Linked DNA regions of Homo sapiens. The protein of the gene in region 1 purifies or fractionates together with the protein of each later gene. This does not show direct contact. Each region holds a gene or a part of one and is shown in the gene's direction. Other genes may lie near its edges.

Region 1 (3,500 bases):
CCACAAAGGGCAGTGCTTCCCAGTGCTGGGCTGTGGATTGGTATCCTGTCATGCCCAAATCTGCCTAGTCGTTACCAAATAAGCAGACGGTAATGTATGTGGACATTTTGTGCGAGGTGTTCATGTGTCTTGGGAAAACCTGTCTCATGTTCCCAGAAAGTAGCTTTCCTTACCTGGAGTTTGAGTGGCTTTTATGACATTGGCATGTAGATAATAGAACTGTACGTGTTTTTTTGTTTGTTTGTTTTTTGAGATGGAGTCTCGCTCAGTCGCCCAGGCTGGAGTGCAATGGCGTGATCTTGGCTCACTGCAACCTCCACCTCCCGGGATCAAGCGATTCTCCCGCCTCAGCCTCCCAAGTAGCTGGGGTTACAGGCAGCCACCATCATGCCCGGCTACTTTTTGTATTTTTGTAGAGATGGAGTTTCACCATGTTGGCCAGGCTCATCTTGAACTCCTAACCTCAGGTGATCCACCCACCTCGGCCTCCCAAAGTGCTGGGATTACAGCTGTGAGCCACCGTGCCTGGCTGAACTGTAGGTGTTTTAAGGTGATGATGGAGCAAAATTTTTGTTGGCCTTTAAATTAATTTTTTTAATTAAATCTTTAAGTAAGGAAACTGTTGACAGCTAGACAAGTTTACAAACAAAGGGTATCTGCTAGGGCTACTGTGGTTTTGGTTGCATCCTGAAGAATGAGTGTTTTAAGGGTAGGATGAGTGTTCTAAGGGTAGGAGAAACATGGACCTCAATATAGTAATGATTCCCTTTGCTTCAAGGACGTTGATGTCTTATTCTCTTATCTCACAGTCTCTGTGTTTAACTGGAAAGTTTGGTCCCTTTTCTTTTATGATAATTGACATAGTTGGATTTATGACCACCACCTTACTATGTGGTTTTTTTGTTTTTGAGACAGAGTCTTGCTCTGTTGCCCAGGCTGGAGTGTAGTGGCGCGATCACAGCTCACTGCAGCCCCCGATCTCCCAGGCTCAAGTAATCCTGCCACCTTAGCCTCCCAAGTAGCTGGAACTAAAGGCGCATGCCACCATGCCTGGCTAATTTTTGTATTTTTTGTAGAGATGGGGTTTTACTATGTTGCCCAGGCTGGTCTCCAATTCCTGGGCTCAAGTGATCTGCCTGCCTCGGCCTCCCAAAATGCTGGGATTATAGGTGTGAGCCACCATGCTTAGCTACTATATGCTTTAGTTTTTCCTTCTCCACAAAGTAGACATTATTATTATTTTGGTTTTGTACAATCAACATTTGTTTAGATTTGTCCACATATTGATCAATATCTTTGCTTACCTTTCTCTGCCCCTGCCCCTCACCACATCTCAATGTATCTGTGGTGATTTTCCTTTTGCTTAAGTTGCATTCTTTAAGTGGTTATATGTTAGAAATAAATTCTCAGGTTGTATAGTTTGGCTGAAACTATCTTTATTTTGCTCTCCTTCTGGAAAGGCAGTTTTGCTGAGTATAGACTCCTAGCCTGAGAGTTATTTTCTCATATCACATTGAAGATATGACTCCATAACTTCTGGCTTCCATTGGGGAAGTTGAGGACTTGGCCATCCTTACTAGGTGACTTGTCTTTATTCTTTGTCTCTTTTAAGCTTTCTTGGTCTTCTATAGTTTTGTTAAGATTGTTTGGGAATTCATTTGTTGGGTTTATTGGATCCGAGGATCCTCAGATCCAATAAACCCAACAAATCATCAGGAAACAGTTGTCAGAAGACATCATTGGTCCTGTGTTTCCTACGGAAATAAAAAACAATAAATATTGCACTGAATGTTTGTGGTTTGGTGTCCCTGAATAATAAAGAAGGAACATATTTGCAAAAAGTTGCATAGGGTTTTTTTATGCAGAATTTTGTCAGAAGACAGTGGTGCTGCCATGTTTTTCTTTGAGTGCAAATGTACATTGCTAAGATTTTTTTAAGATGGCATGTGCTTTGAAAAGAGGATATTGCATTTTTAAGAGTTTAAAAATCTTATGAGTGAGAAATATTAAAAAATCTTATTTTCCCCTCTTTACAAGAAATAAAAGATGTTCCTCATAAAAAAAAAAAAAAAAAAAAAGGAAATATTAGCCGAATAGGTTATACAGAGTTACCATATGACCCAGCAATTCCACTCTGAGGTATATTCCCCAAAGACTTGAAGACAGGGACTCAAACAGATACTTATACACCAGTGTTCATAGCGGCAGTATTCAGTATAGCCAAAAGGTGGAACCAACCTGAGTGGCCATGAACAGATGAATGGATGAACGCAATGCGCTGTATCCACCCAATGGAATGTTATTCAGACTTAAAGAGAGATGAAGTACTCATCTATGCAGCCGTGTGGATGGACTATGAACAGTTTATGCTAATTGAAAGAGGCCAGACACAAAAATGCACGTATTTTATGATTCCATTTATACAAAAAGTTCAGAATAGAGACAGAAAATAGATTCATGCTTGGCAGGGCCTGGGGGGAGGGGAGAATAGGGAGTGCCTGCTTAAGGGGTGTGGGGTTTCCTTTTGATATCATGAAATGTTCTGGAACTAGACAGAGATAATAGTTGTGCAATGTTGTGAATGTACTTGATGCCATTGAATTAATACACTTTAAAATGGCTCCAAGGATAAATTCTGTGTTATGTATATTTTACCACAATTGAAAAGAAACACTGGCTGGGCACAGTGGCTCATGTCCGTAATCCCAGCACTTTGGGAAGCTGAGGTGGGCGGATCACCTGAGGTCAGGAGTTCGAGACCAGCCTGGCCAACATGGAGAAACCCTGTCTCTACTAAAAATACAAAATTAGCCAGGAGTGGTGGTGCATGCCTATCACCCCAGCTACTCAGGAGGCCGAGGCAGGAGAATCACTTGAACCCAGGAGGCAGAGGTTGCAGTGAGCCGAGATTGTGCCATTGCACTCCAGCCTGGTCAACAAGAGTGAAACTGTCTCAAAAAAAAAAAAAAAAAAGAAAAGAAAAGAAACACTGGTTGTGTTGTGAAAATCCTCAGAAATAGGGAGGGGAGCCTGGAGCACCTAACTGCCCTTCCCACTGCCTTCTCAGCCCCAGAGAGTGTCCCCTCTGTCCTTCATCAGAGCACGCGAGGAGCTCCATTCCTGGTCGTCATCTGAGGATGACACAATGAGTAGGACTAGGACTTTAAAACTAGTGTGTGGAGGTTATATCCTCCATGTACTGCGTCTTAAGTTGGGCCATGTGTGTATTGGTCCCCAAAGCATTTTTTCAGCTAAATTGCATAATGACTGTTATTTTAAAAACTGGAAAAGGAAAATCTTAATGTTACATTATACCTGTGGCATTGTCTTGAAATAAGTTTCACCATTTAAATCCACTCTTCACAGGAAAATCTGAAATGCCCCAGGCTCACCAGCAAGCGAGGCCTGCCCACTTTCTCTTCCTGTTGGCAGCTCAGCTCCTCCTGAGCTAGTGATTTTTTTTTTTAAAGAGATGGGATCTTGCTATGTTGTCCAGGCTG
Region 2 (4,202 bases), on another chromosome or scaffold:
CATTCGCATGAATTTGAAAGGTAAATAAAACATCAGACTTCAAAGAAATTCCATTAGAATCGGGGGTTACTTTTTTGTTTTCTTTTCCTCCACCTCCACCTTAAGGAACATGAACGGCATTTGGCCACAGTTTATGTCTTTCCAATTTTATCTTCCACCATCTACCGCTCAGTTCTCCTCACTTCCAGCCAAACAATGTATGTTCCCCAAACACGCCTTCACAATTTCGTTCTAGTTGGTGTCTACCTCTAGTATATGTGTAGTCAATTTATACACACATTCCCCACGATCTTGAAACGTCTTGACATCCACAAGCAAATCTAGGTTTCTAACATAACACTAACTTTGTAAGTCTGTCCATATAAGGTTTTAGCAAACCTAGTAAAACAGAAAACGCACTATTATCCAGGCTTATATTCTGAGATTTGAAAAACCCCTCTATCTGCTACCTTTGGGTTTCTGAATTTACATACCACTCTCAAGTATACAGTATTCACGATTTCTAAGAACTGGAGAGTAAACCTAGTCCTCTAACAATGGCATTTTATTTGTTGAGTTAGGGCACTACCTGCCCACGATGAGGATAGTTAATGAAACGCTGCCCGGTAACGACGATTAAAGGCTTTGATTGAAAACGTATTAGGCCTTAAGAATTTTGCGAACATCTAATTTAACCCTAGTAACTGTGGCGTGGGTTCTTTCAGAATTTACACGCACGTGGGAGACCGCGAAGCGCAGGCAGCGTTAAAACTAGGGCGCTGGAGTCACCCCCGTACCCCGAATGCCGTCGGCGCTCCAGGGCCCCCAGAGGGTGCGGGGGGCGGGGACGCTGTGACGTCACAGAGCGCCCTTCTGACGTTCTCACGGACCCGCTTTGCCTCGGGGGCCCACGCTGGAGCCCACCCAGTACTACTAAGAAATGAGGAGGAAAAAGGGGCGCCGGCTCTCGTAGCGCCTATTTTCTCGGCAGAGGGACCCACGTGCTCGCTTTGGTGGACTCTGCGCCCGGCGAGTACCGCCGGCCTGAAGCTTCCCGCCGCCGCGTCCACGCGACCCAGCCAGAGAGGGCTCAGTCAGCCGGCGCGGCACCTACAAGCTCAGTCGGGATCCTGGAGAGGCGGGAAGGCAGCGGGGCCCTTTCCACAGAGAGAACACAGCTCTTCGGGAGATTCCCCCGCTGCCCCCGAGCCCTGCTCTCCCGCCTCGGCCTCTGAGGACTACCCGCAGGGCGCAGGCAGCCGCGAAAGACTCAGCCTCCTTCCAACTTCGCGAGGGCCGAGGGGGCGGGCCCCGGGCGCGCGCGCGGCGAAGCCCCGCCCCTGCCCGCGCGGCCTGCTGGATTCGCCCCGCCCCTCGCTGTCGCCCGCCGCCCGCCACCCGCCACCGCTCTTCCTCCTGCGCCACAGTCCCGGCGGCGGCGCTGGTCGCGGGTCGCACCGTGAGGCTCGCGTGGGCGGCGATAGGCGCTGGGCCCGGGCCCGGTGAGGAGCGCGCCGCGCGTCCCCTTCTCCTCAGGAGTGGCGGGCCGCGGAAGTGACGTGGTGCACGGGCAGGAGCGCGTTTGAATCGGTTCCCGGGTGATCCTCGCGCCTGCCGCTGCTCGGCCGCCGCCGCTGACGAGGAGCTGCAGCGCGCCGGGCCGAGGCCTCGAGCCGCCCCGGGAGCTGGAGCTGAAGGCGCCGCGCGGAGCGCGCACCTCAGCCCTGAGCCCGGCGGCGGCAGGCGTCGCTGTCTTTTCTCCTTTTCCCCAATATGGCAGCGGCGGACGGCGGCGGGCCTGGTGGGGCCTCTGTGGGGACTGAGGAGGATGGCGGAGGCGTCGGCCACAGGACGGTGTACTTGTTTGATCGGCGCGAAAAGGAGTCCGAGCTCGGGGACCGGCCTCTGCAGGTCGGGGAGCGCTCGGACTACGCGGGATTTCGCGCGTGTGTGTGTCAGGTACGCGAAGGGGCGAGGAAGGGATGCGCGTGTAGACTTGGGGGCGGGAGGGTGATGAGAAACTCAACTTGCTCACTGAGGGCAATAAACCTGTCACCCGGTCCCGGTCCTGCGGCCTTGGCTTCCCTCTCCCGTGTGCCCGCCATGTCCGTGACCTGGTGGCCGGACGCCTCGGGCGGGCCCTGGCCCGGGCCTCGAAGTGCAGGGCCGGCTCCCCCGTGGCCCTCCCTCTGCCTCCGCTCCTTTTACGGGAGGCCTTGCCGGCCCGGGTGGAGAGCTCAGCGTTTGTTGGCCCTGGGCGAGCTTAGCCCGGTTGCGGCCCTGCAGTCTAGGGAAAGCCGTTGGTGGTGTCTGTTTTTACTTTGTAACTTTTTTAAAACGAGAGAAGGGAGTTAACGCCCAGGGGCTCTGTTGTGAGTGTTGCGACGGTGGGAAGTTGTGAAATGCCCGGAGTCATCTCCCCCAAGTTCATTAGATGATGCGGGGTGTCCCCGGGTTGCCCTGTCGAGGTTGCAGGTCCTTCTGGGGCGGGGCGGCGGGGGGGATCCTTCCGCACGGAGACACTTGTCCAGGTCAGCTCTGCAGGTAGAGCTGGCCTTCTGCCTGTCTGAGCCCTAACCCTTGGGAATTTCCAAACCAAGTCAAAGGTTGGTATGGGTGGCTGTGGAGCACCAGAAAACGTACCTACCCCGTGTATTGGTTCGCTTTGAAAATGAACGTGGAGGGAAATCCGCTTTAAACTGTGATGTACTTTATAGATATGAGGTGGTGGCATTGCCTGAGCTTTGAAGAAGGAATATTGTCATGCTCTGAATTAACCATATGAGGTCCCTTTTTAAGCTGTTAAGAACACTTAGCGTCCAAGGGAAAAAAAGAACTTTGAAGCCGTGTTTTGTCGTGAGGCTGATAGGTTTAGAAATGTTCTAGACCATATAACTGTATGGTTGCTGAAATAATTGAAATCGTGATCCGTAGAATGAAAACGATTGGAGAAGTAAGGACTTTCTTTTGTTCACAGCTGTAGTCCCAGCGTCTAGAACTGTGCCTGCGACATTGTAAATGCCCAGATTAGAATGGATAAATGAATGAAGACAAAAACCTATCCCCTCAAGTTAATTCTGTGCCTGAACGTAGTAGATTCCCGTTGTGTTTGAAAAGTGAATGAATGCTCATCTTTTTTGTTGAATGCTTTCTATTCAGAACCATTCTACAAAAGGGAAACTTTTTACGTTTATTGTGTTTATAGTAAAAATATCAGTACATTAAAGAAAATATGGAACCAGAGGGGGGAAACAAGTAAATCTTTTACTCGCTGTAAAACTACTATATGACTACTCTTAGCACCTGAGGTTATGTCTTTTCAGCCTTCCTCCTCCTTCCCACTCCATTTTTTAAATTACTAAAATATGTGTTTTATATTCTATTAATTTTTTCACTTAATAGTGTCAGAAGTTTCTTTAAACGTAGGTCTTCAAATCAAAATTTGAAATGGTCCATTTGCTACCACTATTTACATAACCGAATCTCTCCTTTCTGTTGACATTTACATTACTTTTAATTTTTTTGATTTTAAGTAATGCTGTAATAAACATTTTCCCAGGCCCAAATATTCCCGGGCTCAGGTGATCCTCCCACCTCAGCCTCCCAAGTAGCCAGGACTACAGGTGAGCGCCACCATGCCCAGCTATGTTTTTTTTTTTTCGTATTTTTCGTACATACGGGGGTTTGGCTGTGTTGCCCAGGCTAGTCTCGAGCTCCTGGGCTCAAGAGATCCACCCGCCTCCCAAAGTGCTGGGATTACTGGCGTGAGCCACTGCACCCAGTGGAAAAACATCTTTGAATACATAGCCGTTTATGTCTTTTATTATTGTTTGCTTAGTTTGAAATCTTAGAACTGGATCAAAGATGAGATACATCTTTAAAGCTCTTGTTTCGTATTTTAAAATTGCTTTTTGAAAATGTTTTGCTACTTTACCCTTCCTCTAGAAATGCACTATTTCCCTCTCGTGAGATGTCTCAGTAACTCTTAGATAAATAGAGGAAGTATTATTGGCCTTTTATTACAGAAGTATAAACACAGTCGTGGAAATGGTGACTCATTACTCAGATAGTAAAGCTCAAGTTAGTATTCAAACCCAGAACCTCTGTTCATTCTGTTATACTACTCAAATGGCATTCTTTGCTGTAGGGAACAGATGTATTTATTCCTTCCTTCAATATTTCAACTGGAAAACCAAGGAAAATATTTCTTTTAACTAATTCTG
Region 3 (3,500 bases), on another chromosome or scaffold:
TGCAGGAGTATAGTGGCATGATCTTGGCTCACTGCAGCTTCCGCCTCCCGGGTTCAAGTGATTCTCCTGCCTCAGCCTCCCAAATAGCTGAGATTACAGGCGTGCCCACCACGCTCAGCTAATTTTTTGTATTTTTAGTAGATACGGGTTTCACCATGTTGGCCAGGCTGGTCTTGAACTTCTGACCTCAAGTGATCCACCAGTTTTGGCTTCCCAGAGGCTAGGATTGCAGGCATAAGCCACCGTGCCCAGCCTATATACTTTTTCTCAATTTTGTGTTTGTATGTATGCATGTATGTGTGTGTGTGTGTGTGTGTGTGTTTGTGTGTGTCTGTGTCTGTATGTATGTATGTATGTATGTATGTATGTATTGAGATGGAGTTTCGCTCTTGTCGCCCAGGCCCAGCCTATATACTTTTTCTCAACTCTTTTTACTTATTGATTGATTGATTGAGATGGAGTCTCGCTCTTGACCCCCAGGCTGGAGTGCAATGGTGCGATCTTGGCTGACTGCAACCTCTGCCTCCTGGGTTCAAGTGATTCTCCTGCCTCAGCCTCCCTTGTAGCTGGGATTACAGGCCCCTGCCACCATGCCCAGCTGATTTTTGTATTTAGTAGAGTCGGGGTTTCACCATGTTGGCCAGGCTGGTCTCGAACTCCTGACCTCAGGTGATCCATCTGCCTCGGCCTCCCTAAGTGCTGGGATTACAAATGTGAGCCATTGCCCCCAGCCTTCTTTTTTATTTAGATATTTATTTATGTTTTTTTTTTTTTTTAGAGACAGGTTCTCACTCTGTCATCCTGGCTGGAGTGCATGGGCACAATCATAGGTCACTGCAACCTCAAATTCCTGGGTGATCCTTCCACTTCAGCCTTCCAAGTAGCTTGGACTACAGGTGCATGCCACCAAGGCTAGCCGATTATTTTATTTTGTGTGAAGACAGGGTGTCATTTTGTTTCCCAGGCTGGTCTTGAAGTCCTGACCTCAAGCAGTCCTCTTGCCTCAGCTCGGCCTCCCAGAGTGTTGGGATTACAGGCGTGAGCCATGATGCCCAGCCTTTGGTTTCATTGTGTTTTTGTATTTTTCTTGAGACAAGGTCTTACTCTCCTGCCTAGGCTGGAGTACAGTGGTATAGTCATAGCTCACTGCAGCCTTGAACTCCTAGGCTCAAGCATTCTTCCAACGTCAGCCTCCCAAGGAGCTGGGATTATATGCATTAGCCACTGTGCTTGGCCATTAAATTTATTTATTTATTTATTTTATTTTATTTTTTTGAGACAGAATCTGTCTCTGTCACCCAGGCTGGAGTGCAGTGGCACAATTTTAGCTCACTGCAACCTCCACCTACCGGGTTCAAGCAATTTTCATGCCTTAGCCTCCTAAGTAGCTGGGACTACAGGCATGCGCCACCACACCTGGCTAATTTTTATATTTTTAGTAGAAACATAATTTCACCATGTTGGTCAGTCTGATCTTGAACTCCTGATCTCAGGTGATCTGCCCACCTCGGCCTCCCAAAGTGCTGGAATTATAGGCGTGAGCCTCTGTGCCTGGCAAAAAACTTTTTTTTTTTAGGGATGGGGTGTCCCTATATTGCCCAGGCTGGTCTTCAATTTTTGGCCTTAGGCAATTCTCCTGTCTCAGCCTCTAATTGGTACTGCCTGGTGTATTGGATTTAGGCCTTACTTATTAACCATAAACCACGGAAGCCGAAGATTTACCTCTCTCCTCACTCCCTTACTCCCACCACAAACATGCACATTTTCTGCTCTCCAAACTCCTCACTAGTAGTTATGGTAGAATTTTGGTTAGATTGTATTCAGGGTTTACATTGTAAGATTTTAAGGACTGTTGGCTGGGCGCGGTGGCTCACGCCTGTAATCCCAGCACTTTGGGAGGCCAAGGCAGGTGGATAACGAGGTCAGGAAATCGAGACCATCCTGGCTAACATGGTGAAACCCCAGCTCTACTAAAAATACAAAAAACTGGCTGGGCGTGGTGGCGGGCGCCTGTAGTCCCAGCTACTCGGGAGGCTGAGGCAGGAGAATGGTGTGAACCCGGGAGGTGGAGCTTGCAGTGAGCCGAGATCGCGCCACTGCACTCCAGTCTTGCCAGAGCAAGACTCCGTCTCAAAAAAAAAAAATAGATTTTAAGGACTGTATAAATGCTCTTCACAGCTCAGCTATGTTACTGTGTTACCTTGCCTTTCCTGCTGAACATTTTGTTTCCCAGATCATCTTCTTTCAGTGTGTTCAGGTATTCTAGATATTCTGTCACTTTCATCTTGAAGAAATTGCTCCCTGAGCCCTCTGACATTATTCCACTTTAAGCGTGTTGCTCTCCATGTTGCTGCACTGATGTCTTCTTGGGCTTTTTCTTCACCATCATCCCAGGAATTCCTTTTGCCTCATACTGTGTTAGATCCTCTTATTTCCTGAATTCCACATCTTTGCTTTTGCATTACTTTTTTTTTTTTTTTTTTTTTTTTTGAGACACAGAGTCTTGCTCTGTCCCCCAGGCTGGATCTCGGCTCACTGCAACCTGCAACCTTGGTCTTGGTCTTGAACTCCTGACCTCAGGGGATCCACCCACCTCAGCCTCCCAGAGTGCGGGGATTACAGGCGTGAGACACCACGCCTGGCCTTGTTTTTTGTTTTGTTTTGCTTTTTTTTGAGACCGAGTCTCGCTTTGTTGCCCAGGCTGGAGTCCAAAGGCGCGATGATCTTGGCTCACTGCAACGTCCGCCTCCCGGGTTCAAGCAATTCTCCTGCCTCAGCCTCCCGAGTAGCTGGGATTATAGGCACATGCCACTACGCCTGGCTAATTTTTTGTATTTTTAGTAGAGACAGGGTTTCACCATGTTAGCCAGGATGGTTTTGATCTCCTGACCTCTTGATCCACCCGTTTCGGTCTCCCAAAGTGCTGGGATTACAGGCGTGAGTATTACTTCTTTACTTTAGTGGAACACATTCTAGTAGCTTTTTTTTAAAAAAAATTTTTTTCTGAATTTTAAAAAATTGAGGTGGGGGGGTCTCAGTTTTTTGCCCAGGCTGGTCTCAGACTCCTGGGTTCAAGTGATCCTCCTGCTTCAGCATCCCAAAGTGCTGAGATTATAGGCATGAGCCACCCTGCATGGCCCCATTCCAGTAGCATCCTGAGGGAGAGTGCTTGGGAAGGGAATTTTCACATTTAAACCATCTCCGGGGCCGGGCGCAGTGGCTCACGCCTGTAATCCCAGCACTTTGGGAGGCTGAGGCGGGTGGATCACGAGGTCGGGAAATCGAGACCATCCTGGCTAATGTGGTGAAACCCCGTCTCTACTAAAAGTACAAAAAAATTAGCCGGGTGTGGTGGCGGGCGTCTGTAGTCCCAGGTACTCTGGAGGCTGAGGCAGGAGAATGGCGTGAACCTGGGAGGTGGAGCTTGCAGTGAGCCGAGATCTCGCCACTACACTCCAGCCTGGGTGACAGAGCGAGACTCCGTATTAAAAAAAAAAAAA
Region 4 (3,500 bases), about 99 Mb from region 1:
GGGTTTATATTTGGTGGAAAACTGTCCGATTGAGTATTGACTTTCTCTGCATTTCAGTGGTACAGAAATCTTAAAAGTACTTCAGTCTACTGAGCCATCCTTTGAGGACACACTCATTTTACATGTATTACTTACATGAAACAGATTGAAAAACAGATGAGGCATACATGTTCCCTTAATGTCCACCTAAGGAAACAGTGGATTATACTCATACTTTATAGACACCATTGAGTATTTAGTATGTGTAAAGCACTATGCTAAGTTACTTTCACTTCCATTAACCATCCTCAAAAGGCCTATGAGCTAGGTACTGTTACTCCATTTTACAGTGAAGAATTGAGGCACAGAGATTAAATAACTTGCCTAAAGTCATGTAGTTAATCAGAATTCAAATCTAGGCAGTCCTCACTCCAGAGCCTATGTGCTTAATCACCACACTGTAGCCTCACTGGAAAAATTGGACACAACTGAGTTTTCACTTCTGCCTGACCTCTAAGAGCTAAGTGGATTTTCAGAGGAGAAATTTGTACAGCTTACAGCTAGTCTGTGGCTTCAATATCTGTTGACTAGTGTGAAAGCTCATATCACTTTTCAGGATGTATGCATTTTAGTTTTGAACATATAACCATAAAACTGGTGGAAAAAGCAAGTGCTGGCCATTTGGCTCTGCTGAGCTAAAAAGACCTATATAAACACATTTCTTCTGTCTTGTCTTTTTTCCCCAGGGCGATATCATGAAGAATATCTTTATCGTGCAGGTCAGTAAGATCTAGAAGTGATCTGGCATTCATCATTGTTTATAGAATTTCAAGCTATAAAATAATGCTCATTTTTTACTTTGGCTATATTCTCTAGAGCCAGACTATGAAACTTCAGGTGTTTATAGCACAACTGCATCTACAGCAAACTTGGTAGGTATTTAATAATAGCAAAGAGTTATAGCTCCTACTATGTACTAGGGCACTGTTAAGAGCTATACATATAAATGTATTTAAATCAGAACAACCCTGTGAGGCTTAGTATCATTCTCATTTTGAAGATGAAATTGAGACAGAAATTAACTCGTGTTCTGGAACTAATATATTTAGAGATATTCTAACATAGGCAGTAATGATCTTTTAGAAGGTTTTATTATGATTTTTTTATTAGAATGGATGATACATCTCACTCAATATAACAAAAGTTTGCTTCTCCTTTATGCTACATGTCTAGTAGAGGTCTGTAGAAGGGCTTGCTCAGGTACTTAGGCTGATGGAAATTCATCCACAATTGCCAAGGCAGGAAATAAAATTCGGTAAATGGTGCACTGGCTCTTAGAGTTTCCACTAGAGGTGATACATGTCACTTTCTTTTCCATTTCACTGGCCAGAGCAGGTCCCACTGAAGAGTCTTAACTTTTCTGTGCTGGAAGGCAAAAAGAAACATGTTAACAGCGCTAAGAACTATATCATTCAACTTGCCCTCCCTCTCATAGGCAGAATACTTGTTTCTGTCTCAAAGGAGGCATCCTAAAATGTCCCATTCAGTGTAATCAAACTCAAAGCCTAGGATTTCTGGGCTATGTGTAGTACTTGTTATATTGGGTCCAGATGTAGCTTCTTGTGATCTTGAGACTTAAAACCAAAAATACAGAGGTTTTATTTTTTCCCCCTCCCTCCCCAGTTTACAGTGCTGAAGCAGGGACTGAAATTTCTATTCATAAAGGGAGAAAAAAACAGTTATTGGCCTGTAGCAATTCTGAGACCTTCATGGGCAGACGTTGTAAGGGCCCCCAACATACTCATGGGACTCTTCCCTGGAGGAACTCTCGTTCATTTTCTGGGGCTCTTGGTTACTCCCAAGGCCCATCCTTCCTTGGCAGTGTTTGGAGTAGGCATTGGAGAATAATCCTTCCTTGGCAACCGAGCAGCTTTCTAAGCTTGCTACTTACAGAAGATTGGAGGCCCAAGGGTGGTTTTATCTCAGTTGAATGGTTTTAGTTCTGGCTCGTGATTTCTTTGGCTGTAAGATTAATTTATTCTGCTTCTGTTTGATTTCTTTTGGTTTCATGTACCAATAGCCATACTACAGTTCTTTTCTATAGATATACTACTAAGATTTGCTATAATTCTTTGTGGTTTTATCCTTATATTTCTGTCTATTTGATTGCAAGTGGCTTGAGTTTATCAGGCACTGATGGAAGAGCCATGCATTTTGGACATTTTTCTACAAGCCATTTTGTTGAAGTGCAAGGATTTACTAGGTGTTACATCCTTAGTTGAACTCTAGCTTTGAGACATCTTAATACACTCGGGTTTTAACCAAAGAGTTCATTCTTGCTGCGAGGTCGAGTTTTCACTGTTTGTCGTTGTTCAAACCATTCATCAATATTACCTTTTATAGTTTAGGGTTGAAACAGTTGTTCCTTCAACCCTGTGAGTCCCTGTATGCAAGGAATCTATTCCCTTTCATTCCTGCCTGCAAACTACTAATTCTCTCCTACATACACCTGTCTTAAAATAACTTGCTTTAGACAATGCCAACAGTTATCAAAGCACAATACTAACATCATGTCTTCTAAATTGCTTACCCTAAGAGCTACATGTTCATAATCTCCTTCTCAATTAGGATTTTGTTATAGCCGTACCCTACTTCTAGTTACCAATTTCTGTTTTAGTCAAGCTAGGTTATGCTGCAGTTAACAACCCCCCAAAATCTCAGTGGCTTAACTCAGGAAAAGTTGTTCTTGCTAATGTTATATAGTTCAATGCGAGTTGGCAGCAGGCTGCCAGACTATGACTGTTCTTCATAGTCACCCAGGGACCCAGGCTGATGGACACATGCCATCATGATCATCACAGCAGGGCAAAAGATACAGAAATTGAACACTGACATTTCTGGTCATATTTTATTGACCAAGTAACATGGTCATTCTTGACTTTGGATGGAGCTGGGAAGGGCAATCCTACCATCTATTCAGGAAATCTGGAATATTTATGAAGAACTTGAATAACTACCTTATATTCTCTAATTATGACTAAACTGTGGCAGCTTCATGTACTAAATTTTTGTTTTTACTGTTTAGACAATATACCTTAGGAAGGAGAAGAAAACTCTGATACGTAATTCTCTTTCTGTTCTTTCTCCTTCCCTTACTTTGCTCCTTCCAGAGAAAGTTTTTTCCCCCATTTCCTGCCACCATTACTATTCTCATATCATGTGCTTTTGATATCACCTCTTGAAGTAGCCAAGTAAGAATCTTACCACAAGGGATGACAAGAATACTTTTTTTCTGTTCCTTCAATTTCACTTGTCACATGTTCCTTTTTGTTCTGAATTTAAACAACCTCAATAGCTTTCAATCTCTTCATATGTTCCAAGCCCTCTGCCCCCATCACCAAATCCATAGCAAATTTCTATTGTTGCTAAAATAAAGGATAAATGTCTTCAGAATTATCAGCATACATTAAAAAAAAACTCTTTGTCTTTAATTTTTAATTTCAATAGGTTTTTTGGAGAAC

The links. The genes of interacting proteins can lie anywhere in the genome.
Region 2: the proteins of PRPS2 (region 1) and SMCHD1 purify together in Homo sapiens (affinity purification with mass spectrometry; one large-scale study listed by BioGRID and IntAct). This does not show direct contact.
Region 3: the proteins of PRPS2 (region 1) and YY1AP1 purify together in Homo sapiens (affinity purification with mass spectrometry; one large-scale study listed by BioGRID and IntAct). This does not show direct contact.
Region 4: the proteins of PRPS2 (region 1) and ALG13 purify together in Homo sapiens (affinity purification with mass spectrometry; one large-scale study listed by BioGRID and IntAct). This does not show direct contact.

Annotation. Positions count from the first base shown.
Region 1 is NC_000023.11:12,815,412-12,818,911, forward strand, and holds part of PRPS2 (ribose-phosphate pyrophosphokinase 2), read left to right. Parts: intron 1-3,500. UniProt on the Homo sapiens protein: Catalyzes the synthesis of phosphoribosylpyrophosphate (PRPP) that is essential for nucleotide synthesis.
Region 2 is NC_000018.10:2,654,324-2,658,525, forward strand, and holds the start of SMCHD1 (structural maintenance of chromosomes flexible hinge domain-containing protein 1), read left to right. Parts: upstream 1-1,402; 5' UTR 1,403-1,752; coding exon 1,753-1,938; intron 1,939-4,202. UniProt on the Homo sapiens protein: Non-canonical member of the structural maintenance of chromosomes (SMC) protein family that plays a key role in epigenetic silencing by regulating chromatin architecture.
Region 3 is NC_000001.11:155,664,775-155,668,274, reverse strand, and holds part of YY1AP1 (YY1-associated protein 1), read left to right. Parts: intron 1-3,500. UniProt on the Homo sapiens protein: Associates with the INO80 chromatin remodeling complex, which is responsible for transcriptional regulation, DNA repair, and replication. Enhances transcription activation by YY1. Plays a role in cell cycle regulation.
Region 4 is NC_000023.11:111,729,670-111,733,169, forward strand, and holds part of ALG13 (UDP-N-acetylglucosamine transferase subunit ALG13), read left to right. Parts: intron 1-725; coding exon 726-758; intron 759-855; coding exon 856-911; intron 912-3,500. UniProt on the Homo sapiens protein: Catalytic subunit of the UDP-N-acetylglucosamine transferase complex that operates in the biosynthetic pathway of dolichol-linked oligosaccharides, the glycan precursors employed in protein asparagine (N)-glycosylation.